2 separate regions of the Homo sapiens genome follow, and region 2 is linked to region 1. The links come from fine-mapping of genetic effects on gene expression. A gene starts in region 1. The other region holds a variant in brackets. All regions are shown on one strand. Distances are from middle to middle.

Region 1 (10,325 bases):
GTGGCTGACAAATTTGTTCTTGAGCAGTAACACAATTCATTACAACTATAAGTTAAAGACAAATGGAATGATTAGGGGAGGCGTATCTATTTTGGATACCAGTACAGAAAAAAGTTCAGAGGAGGATATTTCCTGCCTTTAGGAATTACCTGTTCTATTGTTTACTTCTATTATAGCAAGCTGAGTGTCCACAAATAAAGTAAAACCAGACCTTCTATTCATTTAATGAAAACAACCTAATTTTTAAGAAAACTGAGAATCTCTTGTTACTTGTGTGGAGTAATAGTTCCTTCTAGCAACAACATTCACACCACAAGGAATGGAAATGACACATATTACTTTAGTTCAAAAGAGTTCAGGGCACACAAAATTAAATAAGGGAAATTATTTGAAAACTTTGGGTCAGATCTTGAGTTTTCTCTTTTGAGCTGGTCTGTGTTGGACTTCCTTTGAAGTCAACAAAGCTGCCTCCTGGATTTCTTCCATGGGGATGAAGCACAAAATGAGAAATAGGCTTCATCACATCAGTCCACAGATGAGTACTCAAGTGGCAGAAGGCAGTATTAACATTCGGAGGAGTCAAATATTTACACATTTTTTAAACATTAAATAAGTGATTGTGATGTGGCTTTTTAAAACAACAAATCAGCCTAGATAAGGACTGGTCAGTGACCTTGTTGAAGACCTTTCATATTAATATAATTACTTCACACAAAATATAATAAATGAACATGGGCTATCACATGCAACTGGCAAAACAGACGTGCTTATATTTAACAGGAAAAAACTATCAATAGTAGCACAATGGCAAAAATGCTATAATTTGTTCCAAAGCAATTAAAGGATAAATTCTACACTGGAAGAGTGCATACAATCAATATCAACAATGATTAAAAAGATTGTGAGAAATTTTAAATCTGAGAATGAATAACAGATAACATAAAAGATAACTCTAAATCAATTAGCTAATGAAAACAAGAATCAGTGCCAAAGTCAACCAAATCTATAAGCATAAATGCTTATGAAAGATTCAGAAAACTTTAAATCTATTCTACTGTAGCCCACACTGTACAGTCATAAAATCACTAGCATCCTATGGGTGTTAACATTGAAAAAATATATTGGAAAATTCCTAAATGAAAATCTAAAAATAATGGCACAAGGAAGAGCTTTTTCTTTCTCTTTTTAAAAAGTATACTTTAAGTTCTGGGATACATATGCAGAATGTGTAGGTTTGTTACATAGGTATACATGTGCCATGGTGGTTTGCTGCACCCATCAACCCATCATCTACATTAGGTATTTCTCCTAATGCTATCTCTCCCCTAGCCCCCAACCCCCTGACAGGCCCTGGTGTGTGATGTTCCCCTCCCTGTGTCCATGCCTTCTCATTGTTCAACTCCCACTTATAAGTGAGAACATGCAGTGTTTGGTTTTGGTTTTCTGTTCTTGTGTTAGTTTGCTGAGAATGATGGTTTCCAGCTTCAACCATGTCCCTGCAAAGGACATGAACTCTTCCTTTTTTATGGCTGCATAGTATTCCATGGTGTATATGTGCCACATTTTCTTTATCCAGTCTATCACTGATGGGCATTTGGGTTGGTTCCAAGTCTTTCCTGTTGTGAATAGTGCCACAATAAACATATGTGTGCATGTGTCTGTATAGTGGAATGATTTATAATTCTTTGGGTATATACCCAGTAATGAGATTGGTGAGTCAAATGGTATTTCTGGTTCTAGACCCTTGAGGAATTGCCACATTGTCTTCCACAATGGTTGAACTAATTTACACTCACACCAACAACGTAAAAGTGTTCTTATTTCTCCACATCCTCTCCAGCATCTGTTGTTTCCTGTCTTTTTAATGAACACCATTCTAACTGGCATGAGACGGTATCTCATTGTGGTTTTGATTTGCATTTCTCTAATGACCAGTGATAATGAGCTTTTTTTCATATGTTTGTTGGCTGCATAAATGTCTTCTCTTGAGAAGGGTCTGTTCATATCCTTTGCCCACTTTTTGATGGGGTTGTTTTTTTCTTGTAAATTTGTTTAAGTTCTTTGTAGATTCTGGATATTTGCCCTTAGTTAGATGGATAGATTGCAAAAATTTTCTCTCATTCTGTAGGTTGCCTGTTCACTTTGATGATAGTTTCTTTTGTTGTGCAGAAGCTTTTTAGTTTAATTGGATCCCATTTGTCAATTTTGGCTTTTGTTGCCATTGCTTTTGGTGTTTTAGTCATGAATTCTTTGCCCATGCCTATGTCCTGAATGGTATTGCCTAGGTTTTCTTCTAGGGTTTTTATAGTTTTAGGTCTTACGTTTAAGTCTTTAATTCATGTTGAGTTAATTTTTGTATAAGGTGTAAGAAAGGGGTCCAGTTTCAGTTTTCTGCCTATGGCTACCCAGTTTTCCAACACAATTTATTAAATAGGGAATCCTTTCCCCACTGCTTTTGTCAGGTTTGTCAAAGATCATATGGTTGTAGATGTGTGGCCTTATTTCTGAGGCCTCTGTTCTGTTCCATTGGTCTATATATCTGTTTTGATACCAGTACCATGCTGTTTTGGTTACTGTAGCCTTGTAGTATAGTCTGAAGTCAGGTAGCATGATGCCTCCAACTTTGTTCTTTTTGCTTAGGATTGTCTTGGCCATATGGGCTCTTTTTTTTGGTTCCATATGAAATTTAAAGTAGTTTTTTCTAATTCTGTGAAGAAAGTCAATGGTAGCTTGATGGGGATAGCATTGAATCTATAAATTACTTTGGGCACTATGGCCATTATCATGGTATTGATTCTTCCTATCCATCAGCATGGAATGTTTTTTCCATTTCTTTGTGTCCTCTCTGATTTCCTTGAGCAGTGATTTGTAGTTCTCCTTGAAGAGGTCCTTCACATCCCTTGTAAGTTGTATTCCTAGGTATTTTATTCTCTTTGTAGCAATTGTGAATGGGAGTTCTCTCATGATTTGGCTCTCTGTTTGCCTATTGTTGTATAGGAATGCTTGTGATTTTTGCACATTTATTTTGTATCCTGAGATTTTGCTGAAGTTGCTTATCAGCTTAAGGAGATTTTGGGCTGAGACAATGGGATTTTCTAAATATAGGATCATGTCATCTGGAAAGAGAGACAATTTGACTTCCTCTCTTCCTATTTGAATACCCTTTATTTATTGCCTGATTGCCCTGGCCAGAATTTCCAATACTATGTTGAATAGGAGTGGTGAGAGAGGGCATCCTTGTCTTGTGCTGGTTTTCAAAGGCAATGCTTCCAGCTTTTGCCCATTCAGTATGGTATTGGTTGTGGGTTTGTCATAAATAGCGAGGAAGAGCTTTTTCAAGTATGACACAGAGAAGCTATAAAAGATAAGACTGGCAAACTGCACTATGTAAAAGTATTTAAAATTTTTTTACATATTAATATACATCAAAAACAAAGTCAAAAGGTAAATAAGAAACTTGGAAAAATATGCAACTCAAATCACAAAAGACATTATATCAATACATGCAAATTCTACAAACAAAAACAAATGACCAAGAACACAATAGAAAAATAGGCAAATTATATCTTCAGAGAGTTCATGGAAAAGAAAATACAAATGGATGGAGCATACTAAAGACACACAAAATTTCATTTAAAAGAAAATAAATACAAATTAACACTTTACTGAGATACGACTTTTTGCCTACAAGTGTCAAAAGTCAAAAAGTGTTGGTCAGCATCTAGAGATAGGCATTTTCACACGGTGTAATATGAAAGAACCTTTGTGAAAGGCAATTTGCAGAACACACACACATATATCCAACTGTTTGATTCAACTTTTCTACTTTTAAGAATTTATAATGGAAAGGTAAAATGACACATGAAAAAGTTAATTGAAGCATTGCTTAAGATACAAAAAGTATGAAAACAATCTAAATGTATATTGATAGGGAGGCTGGCTAAATACAGCCATACGATGAAATAATATGTGACTATATAAAAAGAACAGGACAGTTCTCTATGAACTGATGCCATGGTGGCTCACGCCTGTAATCTCAGCACTTTGGGAGGCCGAGGCAGGCGGATCACGAAGTCCGGAGATCAAGACCATCCTGGCTAAAACGGTGAAACCCTGTCTCTGCTAAAAATACAAAAAGTAGCTGGGTGTGGTCGCATGTGCCTGTAATCCCAGCTATTCGTGAGGCTGAGGCAGGAGAATCGCTTGAACCAGGGAGTCGGAGGTTCCAGTGAGCCCGGATCGTACCACTGCACTCCAGCCTGGCGACAGAACAAGACTCCATCTCAAAAAAAAAAAAAAAAAACAACCCCTCAAGGTACAGATTAGTGAATACAGTATTCTACTAATTGCATAAAAGAGAGGAAGAATATATTATAAAACAGAGAAGGAAGAATGTATTATATATATGTATACGCACATATTATATGTATGCCTATATATGTGCATGTACATATATATAATACATTCTTCCTTCTTTCCTTGCTTGATAAGCAAAAAGATTATCAAGTTACTTGTTTGATAAGCACCAAACATCTTCTGAAGTATACCAAAAACCGTGAACACTTGTAAAAGAATAACTGATTGACTCTAAGGAGAACTGGATGCCTGAGAGAAGGAGGTAGGAGAGACTTTGCCCTGTTATGGTGTTTTGTAAGGATTGAATTTTGAGCTGTATGAACGAATTACAAGTCAAAAAATAAAATACAGAAGTTATCTCCTCTCTATAACATCATCCCCCACTTCTGCCCTCAGTTAACTTTCCCTATCACCAATGAGTGGTATAGAGTCAACCTCCTCAGTATATCAGTATACTTCTCTGTAAACAGAACCCAGGCACAAGTCTATTTACAAAGCCAGTTTAATGAAACCACTATATAAACTCAGTTTGAAGAAAAAGTCCATTGAGTCTCCAAGATGGAGAAACTGTGAGCTGTGAGCCTCAACAACACCACATTCTGAGTTTAGAAATGAAAGGAAGCAGAGATATGGGATTAAAGTTAATGATAGTCTAGGATCCATTAGGGTTGTATTTTTTAGTAGCAAGAACATTCCTGGGATTTTGAAGTCAGGAAAAATATTCAGTGAATGTAAAAAAAAAAAATTCTGCATTATCAACAAATTAGCCCCAAAGTGATTAAGTGTGAGACTCCAAGTACCCCAAGAACTAAGTCTGACAGAGTTTTAAGGTTCACTGGTGTCTTTTAAGAGGCAGAGATAGACCAGGAGGGAGCAAAAGAAGGAATTAAGAATTTTCCTTTCTTCCAGAGCCTATTCTTTTCTTACTAAACACATTAACCAATTTTCTACAGAAGTGGTACTGTCAAAATTCTTCCTCATGAACTGAATCTGGGGGTTCACTAAACTGAAAAGCATCTCTGGCTAAAAATGCACCAACTGTACAACACAAAAGATTAAAATTAAAATTATGGAAAGTTGTCTTTGAAGGGATAAGGGTGAAGTGGTCTGTAAATTTAACTAAGGAAGGCAGTGGCTAACCCTCTTCTTTCTACACAAAGAACCCATCACTGATGAGTTTGCCCTTACACTGGTTAGATACCATAGCAAACTTCCTAGTACAAATAGAAAATTGATTGTAAACCAGAACATGTAGAAGTGAAAGAGACCTTGGACAGACTTCCTAAAAATACTGCCAAGGAAACTGAGACCAAGAAAATTGCCCAAAGTGACGCAGGTGATTAATGGTAGCGCTACCTCTGCTTGGTCTTGTGTTTACTTTTGCCTTTAAATATTTTAAAAGACACTGATGACCACTGATCTTGAATGGATCTCAAAGCTTTGCAAGGAGGCAGGGGGGCTTACTTAGGGAAGACTTCCTTTCTCCCATAGATTTAACTCCTTTATAAGTATAATTCATTTGTTGTGTGCATATATGACTATATTTGGAAAGAAGTAGTATTTATGGTGCTGAAGAGATATTCAGCATCATATCAAGATGATCAAGAAATATCAAGTTATGCCAAACACTGGGGCCACTCCCTACACTGAAATGTTTCCAAATTCTGTGATAAAAATCAAAGGCTCAAAAGTCAAGAAACAGATCCACTGTTTCTGCAATGTGTTTTGTGAACTCTATTTGTGCCCTGTGGGCCAGTCTCAGTGATGGATTTTCTTATCTATGAAATGGGACCAATGACCTCAACTCAGATTTACTTGGGTGTTCTCAGGCATGCATCAAAGGCATACTGCTGAAATTCTTAGCACATAAATACCACTATGTAATAGTGAGTCTGTAAAATAGTTATGAATAGGCAATAATGGAATAGTTAATAAATATGAGTATTGCAATATTCTTTTTATATGATTGTCTTTTAAGTCATCAAATTTCTGAACATCTTCTGAAACTGAAGGAATAGAAAAGGGAATTTAAATAGTATAAAATGCTATCATAATAATATGGTAACTGCGGGCATATCTATAGACATTCATACTGCCACGGTTAGTGGCATAAATTCTTATCTTTTGCTTAAGGAATAAATACATTTTTTCCTACAGTAGTGAATGCAGGACAGATTTCACCAGAATGAAATTGGATGGCATCAAGTCTATTTAATGTAACACTTTGTTAAACAGAATATTTTCCCCAAACCCAAAGCACCTAAAAGTTTAATTCAGGAGACTTTGGAAATGAGAGGAGGATTAAGAATGAAAAATACTTTAGTGGGAAGTGAACTTTTTAAAATTATTTTTAAAGAATCAAGGCCCCAACTTCTTCAGCACTTCAGGCAACGGATCACAGGTTTTTGTTTTATTGGAGAAGAAACAAAGTAAATAACAGTTCTGAGGATGAACAAAAGCTGTTGGGAATACCCATTTCACTCCTCAAAGTGGGGGCGCGTTTTATGAATAATTTCAGCCGGCTAACATACCTTCCTGCAAAACACAGACAAGATGTAAATTAAAAAGTGGCAGAGTTGTGGCATATTGCAAAAGTTTAAAGGGAGTCATCAGTCCTTCAGTCAGATCTCCCTGCAGAAAGGTTGGCGCTGAGGTTGGAACTGACCCTAGAGGGCTGGAGAGGACCCCTTGGGGGTGAGCAGCCGGGTTCTGGGACCCAGCAAGGTCAGGGGGCGTCTCCCCAGCTACTCTTTATCTATCCCCCGCACTCTGGAAAGCCCGAAGAGGATTCGCTCCAAGTTAGGCGCGCTGTTGGCTGTCAACGTTCTTTAGGACCTCAGGGAAACCGGGACGTTTCTGGCTTTAGGACCCAGGAACTCCGAGGCAGCCTAGACTTAGATGCCTTGGACCACAGCACCACCTACTTATAGAAGCATCCCAAGCCTCAGCCGGTCTGCATCTCCATCGGAAAGTGCGCTTGCCACATCCCTTCGGATCACTTCGTCCTCCCGAGAGCGTTCTGCCTTCTACAGCTCGGAAAGAAAGAAATCTTAGCTGTGAAGTGACCGTGGAGAAAGCGCAGGAAGCGACACAATTGGTTAGGGAGGCAGAGAGTGTGAGCGGGCGCACCCCTTGCCTGGGGACCGCGCTCGCGGGCGGGGACGGAGCATCCCAGTGGCTGCACCCGCCGCTCCGCGCTCCTGCCTGGCGTCGCCAACCCCGCGGCGGCCGCTGGAATTCCAGAGCTGCCAGGCGCTCCCAGCCGGTCTCGGCAAACTTTTCCCCAGCCCACGTGCTAACCAAGCGGCTCGCTTCCCGAGCCCGGGATGGAGCACCGCGCCTAGGGAGGCCGCGCCGCCCGAGACGTGCGCACGGTAGGCAACCCACACCAAGGCAGCCGCAGCTGCGGCGCTTGGGTACACCGCCGTGGACTCCAAATGGCCTAAGAGCGTTCTTTTAGCCCTGCGCTCTCAGTGCCTTTAGAGTTCTTTCCTTTCCCCGGAGCGCCGGCACAACGCATTATGCCGCTGGGTCGGAGCTTAGGGCTCGGCAGAGGTTGCTAATTCACTGATTATAATCACCTTCCTCTCCAACTCGTCCGCAGCTGCCCGCTCTGGATTAAGCCGCTCCGCGGCTCGTGCTAGGCAGTGGGTTCGCTTCCTCCTTCCCTCTCTTCTTTAAATTGGGACGTGCGAAGGCGCAGCTGCCTCCCCGGGGCTCTCTCCATCCCCCACACACCCTGTTTTCGCTTCTTGTCTCTCAGGTTCGTGGCGGAGAGATGCTGATCGCGCTGAACTGACCGGTGCGGCCCGGGGGTGAGTGGCGAGTCTCCCTCTGAGTCCTCCCCAGCAGCGCGGCCGGCGCCGGCTCTTTGGGCGAACCCTCCAGTTCCTAGACTTTGAGAGGCGTCTCTCCCCCGCCCGACCGCCCAGATGCAGTTTCGCCTTTTCTCCTTTGCCCTCATCATTCTGAACTGCATGGATTACAGCCACTGCCAAGGCAACCGATGGAGACGCAGTAAGCGAGGTGGGTCCCTCTCTGCCAAAGGTGCGTGGTGGGCTTCAGGGGTGGCGTGTGGAGGCGCTCACTCACGCCCTGGCTCCGGGGGCTCAGATGGTCAGGGCTGTGCTCTCCACCCCAGCTTTTGCGGGTCCCCAGTCCCCACCTTTAGGACCCTGGAGCTCTACAAAACACTCTGTTTTCTGTACCCTGGAGGCGCGGGGAGCCGGAGCGAGACGCGCTGGGAGCTCGGCGAGCCGGGCGCCAATCGGGCGCTCAGGGCTAAGTCGTGCGGTCCGCACTCATGTTCGCCGCCCCACCTCCTCATCTAAACTTGTCTCTTTAGGACGTATTTCTTATCTGACATGCATTTTTTTTTTGTCGTCGTTGTTCTTCTCTCTGTCCTCCTAACCATCTTCCCTGTAGCTCATTTGTTTTATCTTCCCCATCCACGTGCGCCCCAAACCCGGCCTCAGATCTCTTCGGACTTGACCTAGCATAGTGTGTGTGTGGTGTGTGGGTGTACCCAAGCGTGTGTCTGTATTCCGGAGCTTGGGAGGGGTACCAAGTCGAGGGGGAGGACCTCCCTTTCCAGAAAAAGGCCAACATAGATCTCTTTTTTCTGGAAACTGCGACGAGATGGGAACTTTCTGAATTAAGCAGCAATTCCCGCGCTGGTTTTCTGGGGAGTCCTCGCCTCCAGAGGTTTGTTTTTAAAACAGGCCCCACTTCGCTCTCTCCATTTGCTTTGCAAAAGCAGCCACACCGGTGGAGGCTTCTGTTCTCAATGAAATTCACTTGCGGCTTTTTAACTGCTCCCTCCCTCTCCATCACTTGTGCGTAGCGGAGAAGGCGGGTGGAAGCCTCCAGAAAGGTTTCGGGGAACTCGCTTTCCTGCAGATTTAGTGCGTATTTCTGTCTCGGAGTCCGCTGGAGATGCAACTAATCCAACTGCATTTTAGAAGAAGGGCGGCTAGACACGATTCAATTTTCTGGGTGGATTTAAACATAAACCACTCACCACACGCACATCGAATTACCCGCGCAGGAAGGGCGCGCAGCAGCCCCTTCCCAGGGACCTGGTGAGAGCTGTCTATTTCATTCGGCACTTTGGACTTTTGCGCAATTAGAATTTGTCGCCGGGTTCATGAATGTTGACTTTTTCTCCAAGATGTAAACATCTCACTCGATCTGTGATGTGATTTGTTTATAACTCATTGTGTGTAATCTCCGCTCCTGCATCCAGATTTTGAGGAGGACTTTCCGAACCTTATTTTTTTGATGGCTTTTTAGGACATTGTTAAGCTGTTCTCACCTAGGGGCAGAGCTAGAGATTGGCCCACCTGAGCGCAGAGCTCCAAATAACTGATGGTGTGCGACTTCTGTAGTCCCTGCGCTTCAATTGTCTCTGTATCTGCGGCTTGTAAGAATAAACCTTCTCCAACTTCTCTCCCTCCCTCTCCCCCGATTTCTGACTTTTGGAAATTGTTTATTTTCAGAAATTATTTTACTTAAAAATACTAGAGAGAAATTTCTTCCCAAAGGCCATGAGAGTTTGATATTGATACTTGTCTTGAAAAAGTCCCTTTTTATCTCCTCTCTCCTCCCCTCCTGATTCCTTTCTCAATCCCAGTACTTTCTTTCGAGTATTCGGCAGAGCCAGCAATTTTTGATTACATTATGGTCAAAAGTGTTTGGAGAGGCTTTTCCTCTTTTTATAAGTCAAAGCTGCAGTCTACTTAGAAAAACTAAAGTGCTTGAAGTCTGCAAAATATAGAAATGTCTAAAATCCTTTGCCAGATCCTTATTAGATGACTTGCTAATTCAGTGATGGCTTTCTGATCCACCCTGCCTGTCCCATTGTGGTTGAGTGGGGAAGAACCAAGCATATTGTTTTAGTAGAACTTAATGCAGAGATGCTGTTTGGTGGAAAAGGACATTACAGCACTCCTGCGGCCAGAAGGGATACT
Region 2 (10,675 bases), 180 kb before region 1:
GTGGTTTTCTACCTCCCAACAAAATACATACATACGTACGTATGTATAAAGCTTTTCTGATCTTATTCATGAAATCATTTTTTAAAAGTTCACAAATCCATACATCAAAGATTATGTGACAAATGAAGAAAGTGGAATAAAAAGTTTTTTTTTTTTCATGGAAATGTTCATTGGTCAAAATTGAAGATTAACTTTTTACACCAAAATGCAAAGATTTGAAAAATGAAACATATTTCTAGAGAGAAACAAGACAGACATAAGCAAATAGATCAAAACACAAGTTTGGCCATTTTTCTGGACATAGACCAATAAAGTATGTTTTATTGAAACAGCTACTGATAGTACTTAAGATTATCAAGGGCACCTCTGAGTGGTCCCTACCATTGTTTTTCTCATTTCTCCCTAACTCCAACTTTCTCTTTGCTTTCCTTTTTTTATTTTATGGGGTGCACCTATGTTACTGCACGGTGTCTATGCATGCACACACAACACACACATATGTATTGTGTGGTGTCTATGCATGCACACACAACACACATATACGTTATTGCATGGTGTCTATGCATGAAGACACAATACACACATGTGTTTAAGAACATTAAAAATTCAAAGTCATTTTGGAGCACAATTCTGAAATACTTATCTTAAAATGTTTAAATTTTACATACCATGAACTAACCATTCTAATTTTAGGAATTTATCTTCATAAAACTGTAGTGGACTGAATTGTGTTCCCCTAAAAGACATGTCCATGTTCCAACCCCAGGAATTTGTGAATGTTACTTTATAAGGAACAAGGGTCTTTGAAGAAGATATAATTAAGGATCTTGGGATGATGAGATCATCCTTGATTATCTGCGTGGGTCCTAAACCCAATGACAACTGTCCTTATAAGACAGAGGCAGTGGGAGAACACACAGACAAATGAGCAGGAAGCAATGAACAGGGAGGAAATGCATCCACAAGTCAAGGAATGCCAACAGCCATCAGAAGCTTGAAAATCCAAGGAACATTATCTTTACTTGAGTCCCTGGATTAGTGTGGCCCTCCTAGATTTCAGATTTATAGCCTCCAGAGCTGTGAGAAAATAAATTTCTATTGTTTCTACCCACCAAATTTGTGGTACTTTGTTACAACAGCCTCAGGAAGCTAATACAGAAATTATCCATAAAATTAATAAATATGATCAGTATAATTTTATTTATAATAGCAAAAGTAAAAGTGTCTACAATAGAGAAAGCATTAAAAAGTATACTATAGATATGACAGAATATAAATCCTGTAGCAAAATAATATAAAATAATATATTCAACATATATAAAATGAAAAAATAGTTTGCTAAACAGCCTGCAAAGTGTAATTCCATTTGTTTAAAAAGATATATTGGAAGGGTTAATATCCAGGATACATAAAGAACTTCTACAACTCAACAACAACAACAAAATAGCCTGATTAAAAAATGGGCAAAGGACTTGGACAGACATTTCTCCAAAGATGATATACAGTGCTCACTTTGGCAGCACATATACCAAAGATGATATAAAAATGACCAACAAGCATATGAAAAGATGTTCAATATCACTAATCATCAGAGAAACACCAATTAAAACCACAATAAGACATCACCTCACACCCATTTGGATGTCTACCATCCAAAAAAAAAAAAATACCCAGAAAATAATAAATATTGACAAGGATGTGAAGAAATCGGAACCTCTGTGCACTGTCTGTAATAATGTAAGATGATATGGTCACCATGGAAACAATACGGCAGTTCCTCAAAAAATTAAAAATAAAATTATAGTATAATGCAGTGATTTCATTTTTTGATGTATTTCCAAAAGAATTCAAAGCTGGATCTGAAAGAGATAGGTGCACACCCATGTTAATTGCAGCATTATTCACAATAGCCAAGAGATGGAAGAAACCCATTGTTCATTGATAGATGAATGGATAAGCAAATTGTGGTATACACGCAATGGAATATTATTCAGCCTTAAAAAAAGGAAAGAGGTTCTGACACATACTACAACATGGATGAACCTTGGGGACATTCTGCTAAATGAAATAAGCTAGTAACAACATCACAAATACTGTATGATTCCACTATCTAAAATAGTCAATTCATAGAAACAAAAAGTAGAATGGTGGTTGCCAGAAGCTGAGGGGAGGGAGAAATGGATTGTTACTGTCTAATGGGTAGAGTTTCAGTTCTGCAAGATGAAAAGTTCTGAATATGTGTTACACAACAATATGAATATATTGAACACTATTGGAATGTACACTGAAAAATAGTTTTTGAAATTTACTAAATTGTACATTTTAAATATGTGCAGTTTATTATATCAATTATACCTCAATAAAGCTGTTTAAAAATATGCTGATGGCTGGGCACAGTAGCTCATGGCTATAATCCCAGCATTTTAGAGGGCCATGGCAGGAGGATTACTTGAGCTCCGGAGTTCAAGATCAGCATGGGCAACATAGCAGGACCCCATCTCTACAAAAATATATTTTTTAAAATTAGCCAGGCATGGTGGTGCACACCTGTAGTCCCAGCTTTTTGTGGGGCTGAGGTAGAATGACTCCAGCCCAGGAGGTTGAGGCTGCAGTGAGCCAAAACTGTGTCACTGTACTCTAGCCTGGGCAACAGAGCGAGACCCTGTCTCAAAAAAATTATATACACATATATATGTAATTGTAACCCTAGCAATTGATTAAGAATAAAAACTTCAAAGTCAGACTGCTTGGCCTCAAATTCTAGCTCTACCATCTACTAGTGTTATGACCTTGGATACATTATTTAACTTTGTTTCTTGGCTTTCTCCTCTGTAAAAATAGTGTTTATAACAGTAATACCTAGATGAGCTAGTATTCATAACACAAGGTCTGGTCATAGTTTGTGCTAAATAAATGCAATGATCTATCTCACTCTTGATGTATCTCTACAAATACAGATGGCCACTGACTTACAATGATTCAACTTATGATTTTTTGACTTTACAATGGGTTTATTGGGATATTAGTTGCATTTTTGATTTATGATATTTTTGACTTATGATGGCTTTATCAGAACATACCTCTATTGTAAGTTGGTATTAGTGATTATCTCTAAGTGGCTGTTCCACCAGAGACTTTAATTATGATCTTTTCAGCTTATCTTTTTATTACATACGTGTGTGATTTTTATAATAAAAGCTATGCAAATTTTTTATACATACAAAATACATCAGATGATCTATCTAGCATAGAATTTTGTCTCTCGGTGATACTAACGAAAGACTATTTGAGCAAACATGGGCCATTTGTTATATTTCAGAAGTCCTTCTAATATTATTAGTACTATTATTGAAAAAGAGAAAGATATTACATTTGTATGAGGAAAACAGAGTTTACAAAAACAGACTGCAACTGTTGTTATGGTTATTAATCTCCTGAAAATTATGGTTGATAATCTCCTGAAATTTTATAGTAATGTCATTAACTATTAGACTCACTTTCTAACTATGTGTAAACAATAGATTGGGTGATGGAATAAGTATTTCACAGAGATGCCTTATTGATCCATTATTTTTGTAACAACGGAAAGAGCCATGGTAGATTTGGTGTTGATCCTGTTTTTCCCTCCAGACAGAGCCAGCTCTGGCCTGCTCTATCTCTCATTACTGTGATGACGGCTGTATCCAGATGCTAAACACTCCAGAGACACTCCAATGCAGTGCTAAAGACTCAAAACACTTCATCCCCAAAGAATGTAGCATTCCAGGAGAAAACAGGCCTCCTTCTGACACTGGTAAAACTGTGAAGGTGTGTGATAAATCAGGGATCAAAATGAGAGGCCACAGATTCTCTGCCCCTTACAGTGAATCCTGCTCTTCTCTTTTCAATGGAGTAACAGTCATATTTAAAAAAAAAAAAAAAAGTTTGTACAGACACACTAATGGAAACAATGACAAAATATATTCAAACATAAAGTGTTACAATAGCTAGAGGCTGTTCTAGATGGGAATCAAAGAATAAATAGCTGGAGATGTAACTAAGGATAAAAACATATGAAACGTCTTGGGCTATTTGAGGGGATTAGTTTTGAGAGGGTGGGCAGGAATAGTTTGTCCTTGGGGCAATGGTTGCTTCCATTTTCTTTCCTTCTGTTTTTCCTTGTTTTTCTTCCTTCTTTTCTCCCTCCCTTTCTCCTTCCAGCTCCCACCCTTCCTTCCTTCTTTCCTCTCTTTCTTTTTACAGAAATTTTCATTTCTTCACTGCCACAAAACAAAGACAACAGGGTGTTCAAAGTACCATTTACTTGACTCATCAACCTCCTAAAGTAATATAAATTTTTTAAAATGTAAAATAATAAATGTTATCTATATCCAAGAAAAAAAATAGTGGCCAAAAATTCTTGGCTATAAATTAGAATTCTTTTTTCACTAACAAAATCAAGTGTTTTAATCAAAAGTATGTACAAGATTGTTTCTAAAATGACCACTGCCGAAGTTTGCTAACAAAAATGCAAAACAATCTGCTTCAGTACAACAGAAATATATAAATTATGGCCACAAATGTTAATTAAAAATTTCAAAACAATAAGTTTACTTGTTTTGTTAAAGCATTATGTAATTCCTAGCATTTTTTGTTTCTTTTTGCTTTTTAATGAGGTGTCATTTATGTAAAGTACACAAGTGTACATCTTGATAAATCTTTCCATAGTCTACAGCCATGTAACCGCCAACCAGATCAAGATAGAGAACCCCTCAAAGACAATGTTTCCAAGTTTAAGTGTGTAAGACTCTCCTGAGGATGTTGTTAAAAATCTAGATTCCTAGGTCACAATCCCAGAGGTTCAATATCGGTGGGTCTAGGGTAGGGTCCCTGAGACCGATTATTTAATAAGCACTTCCACTTAGAGAAACTCTGCCCTAGAAAGAAACCTAACTTAACTCAATGGCTCTAGAAGTTCTATTACTCTCTACTTTAAAGATAATTTATTGGGAAACCTAGGTGCTTTCCTACCAAGGAAGAATATATATGACATTTGCTATCCCTGTGTAATTTTAACTTTTAGCATTGTTTTTTCTTTCTTTGAGCCAGAGTTTCCCAAATGAAGTTTCCACCAGTCCATAGAAAAATGAAAAT[T/A]AATAAGACCATATTTTTCATAAAGTTATTTATTCATAAAGTTAGATGTATCTAAAGGATTGTCATTTATTTTCAGATTATGTTCTTCCTACCTTCAGGACTTTCAAATGCTCTTTGCTTTACAAAATAATTCTAACAGTAAAATAGTATGGCCTTTTTTTCTTATTAATTCTGATAAATTAAGAGATAGAAACGCTATATTGTTCAACTTTGAAAAATCTGAGCTATCAAGCCTTCAGGTCTGCTCCTGAAATTTGAACCGATTGCCACCAGGGGAAGTAGAGTACTACAGCCTGTGTGATTTCAACTGTAGAGGCATTTTTTTCTGCCAGAGCATGTCAAATTTAACTGCAGATTTTCTACTACAGTCTTCTGTCACTTAACAATGAGGAGATGAGATATGTTCTGAGAAATGTGTCCTTAGGCTAGTTCATCACTGTGCTAACATCAGTGTGTACTCACACAAACCTAGATGGTATAGCCTACCACACACTTATGCTAGATGGTATAGCCTATTGCTCCTAGGCTACAAACCCACACAGCATGTTACTGTACTGAATACTGCAGGCAGTTGTAACACAATGGTAAGTATCTGTGTATCTAAACATAGAAAAAGTACAGTAAAAATATGTACTATAATCTTAGGAGACCATGATATAGTATATGTGGGTTTGTCACTGACCAAACCATCATTATGTGGTATATGACTGTACTCCAAAAAACAACCTTAGCTTCTTTTCTGTATATATAAGCAACATATGGTCTCTGTAAAAAACTTTCAAAGAATGGGAAAAATTAAATCAAACCATCAAACCATTGTTAATGTGTTTATTTTTTTCCATTTAATTTTAGTCTTTTTCTATGTACAATTTTTTAAACAAGTCAGGAATGAAATGAAGGTAGAAAGATAGATAGATTCATTACCACCTGATATTTTTCTTCAGCAGTTTCCAATGTCATTAAAATCCTTTCAATGTAGTTTTGTCTGTATAGTGTTCTATCTCATGAATGCATCATAATTTATTTATTTATTTATTTTTATTTTTTTGAGACAGTCTCATTCTGGCACCTAGGCTGGAGTACAATGGTGCAATCTTGGTTCACTGCAACCTCTGCCTTCCAGGTTCAAGTGATTCTCATGCCTCACCCTCCTGAGTAGCTGAAATTACAGATGTGCACCACCATGGCCGGCTAATTTTTTTTTTTTTTTTGTATTTTTAGTAGAGACAGGGTTTCGTCATGTTGGCCAGGCTGATCTCAAACTCCTGGCCTCAAGTGATCCATCCACCACCTTGGCCTCCCAAGGTGCTGGTATTACAGGTGTGAGCCACCATGCTCAGCCTCATAATTTATTTTATTAACAACCTTTTACAATTTTTAAATTTAGAGGTTATTTCCACTTTGAAAAGAGGTCAGGAGTTCCAGACCAACCTGGCCAACATGGTGAAACCCTGTCTCTACTAAAAATACAAAAATTAGCTGGGCATGGTGGTGGGTGACTGTAATCCCAGCTACTCAGGAGGCTGAGGCAGGAGAATCGCTTGAACTCAAGAGGCAGAGGTTGCAGTGAGCTGAGATTGCACCACTGCACTCCAGCCTGGGTGGCAAGAGCAAAACTCCGTGTCAAAAAAAAAAAAAGATGTAGGCTGGGTGTGGTGGCTCATGGTTGTAGTCCCAGAACTTTGGGAGACTAAGGTGGGAGGATCACTTGAGCCCAAGAGTTTGAGACCAGCCTGGGCAGTAAAGTGAGACCCCATCTCTCTCTATATATATATTTTAAAAGTAAATAACACTACAGGGAATATTTTTGTACTCACTTAAAGATAATATTTTGAATATATCTTTAAGATAGATTCTTTTTTAAAGGAAACTGATACAAGGGATATAAGGATTTTTAAGGCTTTTTATATATTGTGATTCAACGACCTATTGCTGTATAATAAAATTTCTACAACTCTGTGGCTTTAGAATCACAGCCTTCATGCTGTTCTAAGGGAGTGGTAATAAAGAAAAAAAATAACAGCCATATATTATGTCACTGCATGATGTTGACTGGGGTCACTCATGCAGCTGCATTCGGCTGAAGGCTCAACCGAGGCTGGTTGTCTAAGATGACTTCACTCATATATCTGGCATCTTAGCTGGTATATTAGTCAGTTGTTGCACTGCTGTAAATAAATACCTGAGACTGGGTAATTTTACAAAGAAAAGAGTTGGCCCACAGTTCTGCAGGCTGTACAGGAAGCATAGCAGCTTTGGCTTCTAAGGAGACCTCAGGAAACTTACAATCATGGCAGAAAGTGAAGAGAAAGCTGGTACTTCACATGGCTGAGAGCAGGAGGAAGGTGGCAGGGGAGGTGCTACCCACTTTTAACAACCAGATCTCATGAGAACTCACTTACTATTCAGTATCAAGGGGGTAATGGTGCAAAACTGTTCATGAGAACTCTGCCCCCATAATCCAATCACCTCCCACCAGGCCCCACCTCCTACACTGGGGATTACAATTCAACATGAGACTTAGGAAGGGACACAGATCCAACCCACATCAGCTGGGATGGTTGGAAGAGCTGGGAGATGACTTGGCCTCACTCTGCATAGACTGTCATAATTCAGTAGTCTAGCCTGAACTTATCTATAGGGCAGCTGGATTCCATGAAAATAAACTTAGAAGCTGCTAGGCTTCTGAAGACCCAGACCTAGAAGTCAAAGCAAGTCATGGGGCCAGCCCATATTTAGGGGGAAGAGAAGTAGACTCTACTTTTTAATGAAGAAGCTACAGATTCACATTGCAGAAGGAGACTGAGGTAAGAAGAATTGTTGTGGTCATCTTTTGGAACTAATCAACCATATATCACCATATTAGTATTTTATATAACACTAATTTACAATAAAAAAGTGTATGCAACATATACTTCCATCAGATTGCCATGAATTAAAAAGTGTCAGCAAGGATATACAGCAACAATAACTCTTATATACTCCTGAGAAGAGTGTAATCTTGAATGCCCACTTTAGAGAGCAGTTTGGTATTAACTGCCAAAGTTCATAGGTATATACCTGAAAAAATGGGTGCATGGGTAGACTAGAATATTTGTAGAAGGTTCATAGCAGCATCATTCATAGCTCAGTATAGCCCAAAACTAGAAACCCTAAACTTCATCGAGTCTAAAATAGATTTTGTGGAAATGTGAAATATTATAAAGCAGTGAAAATGAACAAACAATACACTCAGCAACATGAATGAATCCTTTACACATAATGTTGAACATAAAATCCAAGTCACAAAAGGACGGATACAGTGTGTTTTCATTTATGTAAAGTTCACAAACAAGCAAAACGGAACTGTGCTTAGGGATGCAACAAATAATATAAAAAGAAAAATTGTTACCATTTCAAAGCTAGAATAGGAGTTTGCCCCAGTGAGGATGAAGGAGGATGGAGAGGAGAATCTAGGCAGAGGAAACAGCATAACTGGATGATTGGAAGGAGCTGTTTAAATTTAAGGAAATTAAAGAAAGCCCGTGCACAAAAGGAAGAACAGGAACTTACAGGCCAATTTAAGGATTTTCAGGTTTCATGCTAAGAACAACAAAAAGCCATTGATTGGTTTTAAGCAGAGGATAATATAATCAGGTTTTCATTTTCAAAGGGTAATTTTGTCTATCGTGTGTAAATTGATTAGAGAAAGTCAAGAGTGGAAACAGGGATATAGTTAGGAATCTATTTGCAGTGGCTTCAGGTGAGAGATGATATGGCTTCAACTGGTGCAGTGACTGGAAAAGGTGAGAAAACAATAAATCTGAGATAAACTTGGAAGGTGGAATTAACGAAAGCTGATGCTTGGCAATTAAAAAAAACACAATGAGTTAGCATGACTTTTGTCTTCTGGCATGATCAACAGGGTGCCATTGATCAAGAAAGGGAACACTAGTGGAGGGCTGGACCTTGATTTTGGATTCCTGGGAGACATGCAATTGCAGATGTTAACGAATAAGTTGAATAAATGATCTGGAGCTCAGATGAGGTGCTTGAGTCAGAAAGAGGAATTTGGGAGTCATCAGCACTGATATTTTTCTCTTTTAATATACCATGGCAGTAGATGAAATGGGGCATAGCTGAAATACCAAGAGAGGTAAAATGACTCAGAAAGGACAGGTAGAAGCAAGAAGCAGTGAAGATATTAAAACTATCTATGTGCAAGACACTGTGTTTGATGCTGGGGCACATGGATGAGTAACATATGGACCCTAGTTTACTGCCAAGTAGAGGAAATAGACACTTTAGCATATAACATATATCTTACTTGGTAAATGACAGAATAAAGATAAGTACAAGATGCTGTGGGAACTCAGAGAAGGGCAGTGAAGCCTGGGAAGTCCAGTAAGAATTAGCCAGAAGAAGAAAAGTGGGAAATACAATCCAGGCAGACACAATAAGACACACAGAAGCACTGAGGCTTGAAAGAACATCATGTATGTACATGATTGCAAGCAGACCAGTATTATTAATGTACAGAGTTTGAAGGCTAAGTGACGGGACATCAGAGCAAAGAGGGAGAAAGACCCCAGTCATGGGGACCTTGGATGCCCTGCCAAAGAACTTAGGATTGAATCAGTAGGAATACAAGTGACATAGTCGTATTTGCATACTAGAAAGGTTACTTAAACTGTGAGTGAGGGGTGGGAGTAAACGGAACACAGCTGAACTGGTTAGGAAAACAATAAGTGGCTGAATAGTGGGTGCTGATAGGGACATGGGAAAATACATTTGATAAATATTTAGGACTGTTCTTTAATTCAAAGAGCCTTTCTGGAAGGTCATAAATGCTCATTTCTAGTTTGTCCTAGTTTTAAAAGCAGTTGACTGGTATTTGGGGGAGATGGCGGTGGCCCAAATTGTCAATCTCTGAATTCCTACACACACACCACACACACACACACACACACACACACACACACACACACACACACACACAGCAACTAGATGGCAAAGCCAAAACACCTAAGCAACATTTACAATAAAGCTAGGGGACCTCAAAATACAAGCAGGTGGTGGTAACCCCTCAACAGTCACAGACTGTCAGGTTCTGTGCGGGAGGAAGAAGGTAGCCATGAAGCTGAGGACTGAGATCACTGCCAGCAGGTGAGAGCAGGTGCAGGCAGGAGCCTCAGCAGCTGTGGGCTTGCAGGCCACTGCTCAGAGCAGCCAGATAGGAGACAGCACATTGTCCTCTTAGCCAGGGTGGCGCTCCTGCTGGCAGTCTGTGGGCACCGGAGCAGTCCAGCCTGCCTGTAACTCCAAAACCTGTGACTCGCCACTGCTCACTCCCATCTGGGACATGGCCCCACACTGACAAGAATCTGCTGCAAACAATCCAAAGCAGCATTGGGATAAATGGGATAAAGAAAAGTAAAGGTCCAGTGGAGAGGGCTCGGGGCCAGGAAATCCCAGAAAGCAAGCCACTGACGCTTTGACCACTATGCAAAAACAACAGAAGTGGGAGCTTCTTAAAGTCAGAAAAGATTTCCTCCATTCCATC

Evidence for each region.
Region 2: its variant is fine-mapped to the expression of RSPO2 in esophagus muscle (GTEx, PIP above 0.99).

The regions. Positions count from the first base shown.
Region 1 is chr8:108,080,602-108,090,926 of GRCh38, reverse strand. RSPO2 (R-spondin 2) reads left to right here and starts at 7,307. Exons shown (of 6, transcript NM_178565.5): 1 at 7,307-7,730; 2 at 8,120-8,382. The coding sequence starts at 8,289. RefSeq lists silencers at 8,276-8,451, 8,992-9,286 and an enhancer at 8,168-9,114.
Region 2 is chr8:108,261,378-108,272,052 of GRCh38, reverse strand. LOC105375704 (a long non-coding RNA gene) reads left to right here. Exons shown (of 3, transcript XR_928530.4): 3 at 3,631-6,054. Among named protein-coding and RNA genes, the nearest start is that of EIF3E, 18 kb to the right of the region's middle. The variant T/A (reference allele first, on the strand shown) is at 5,134.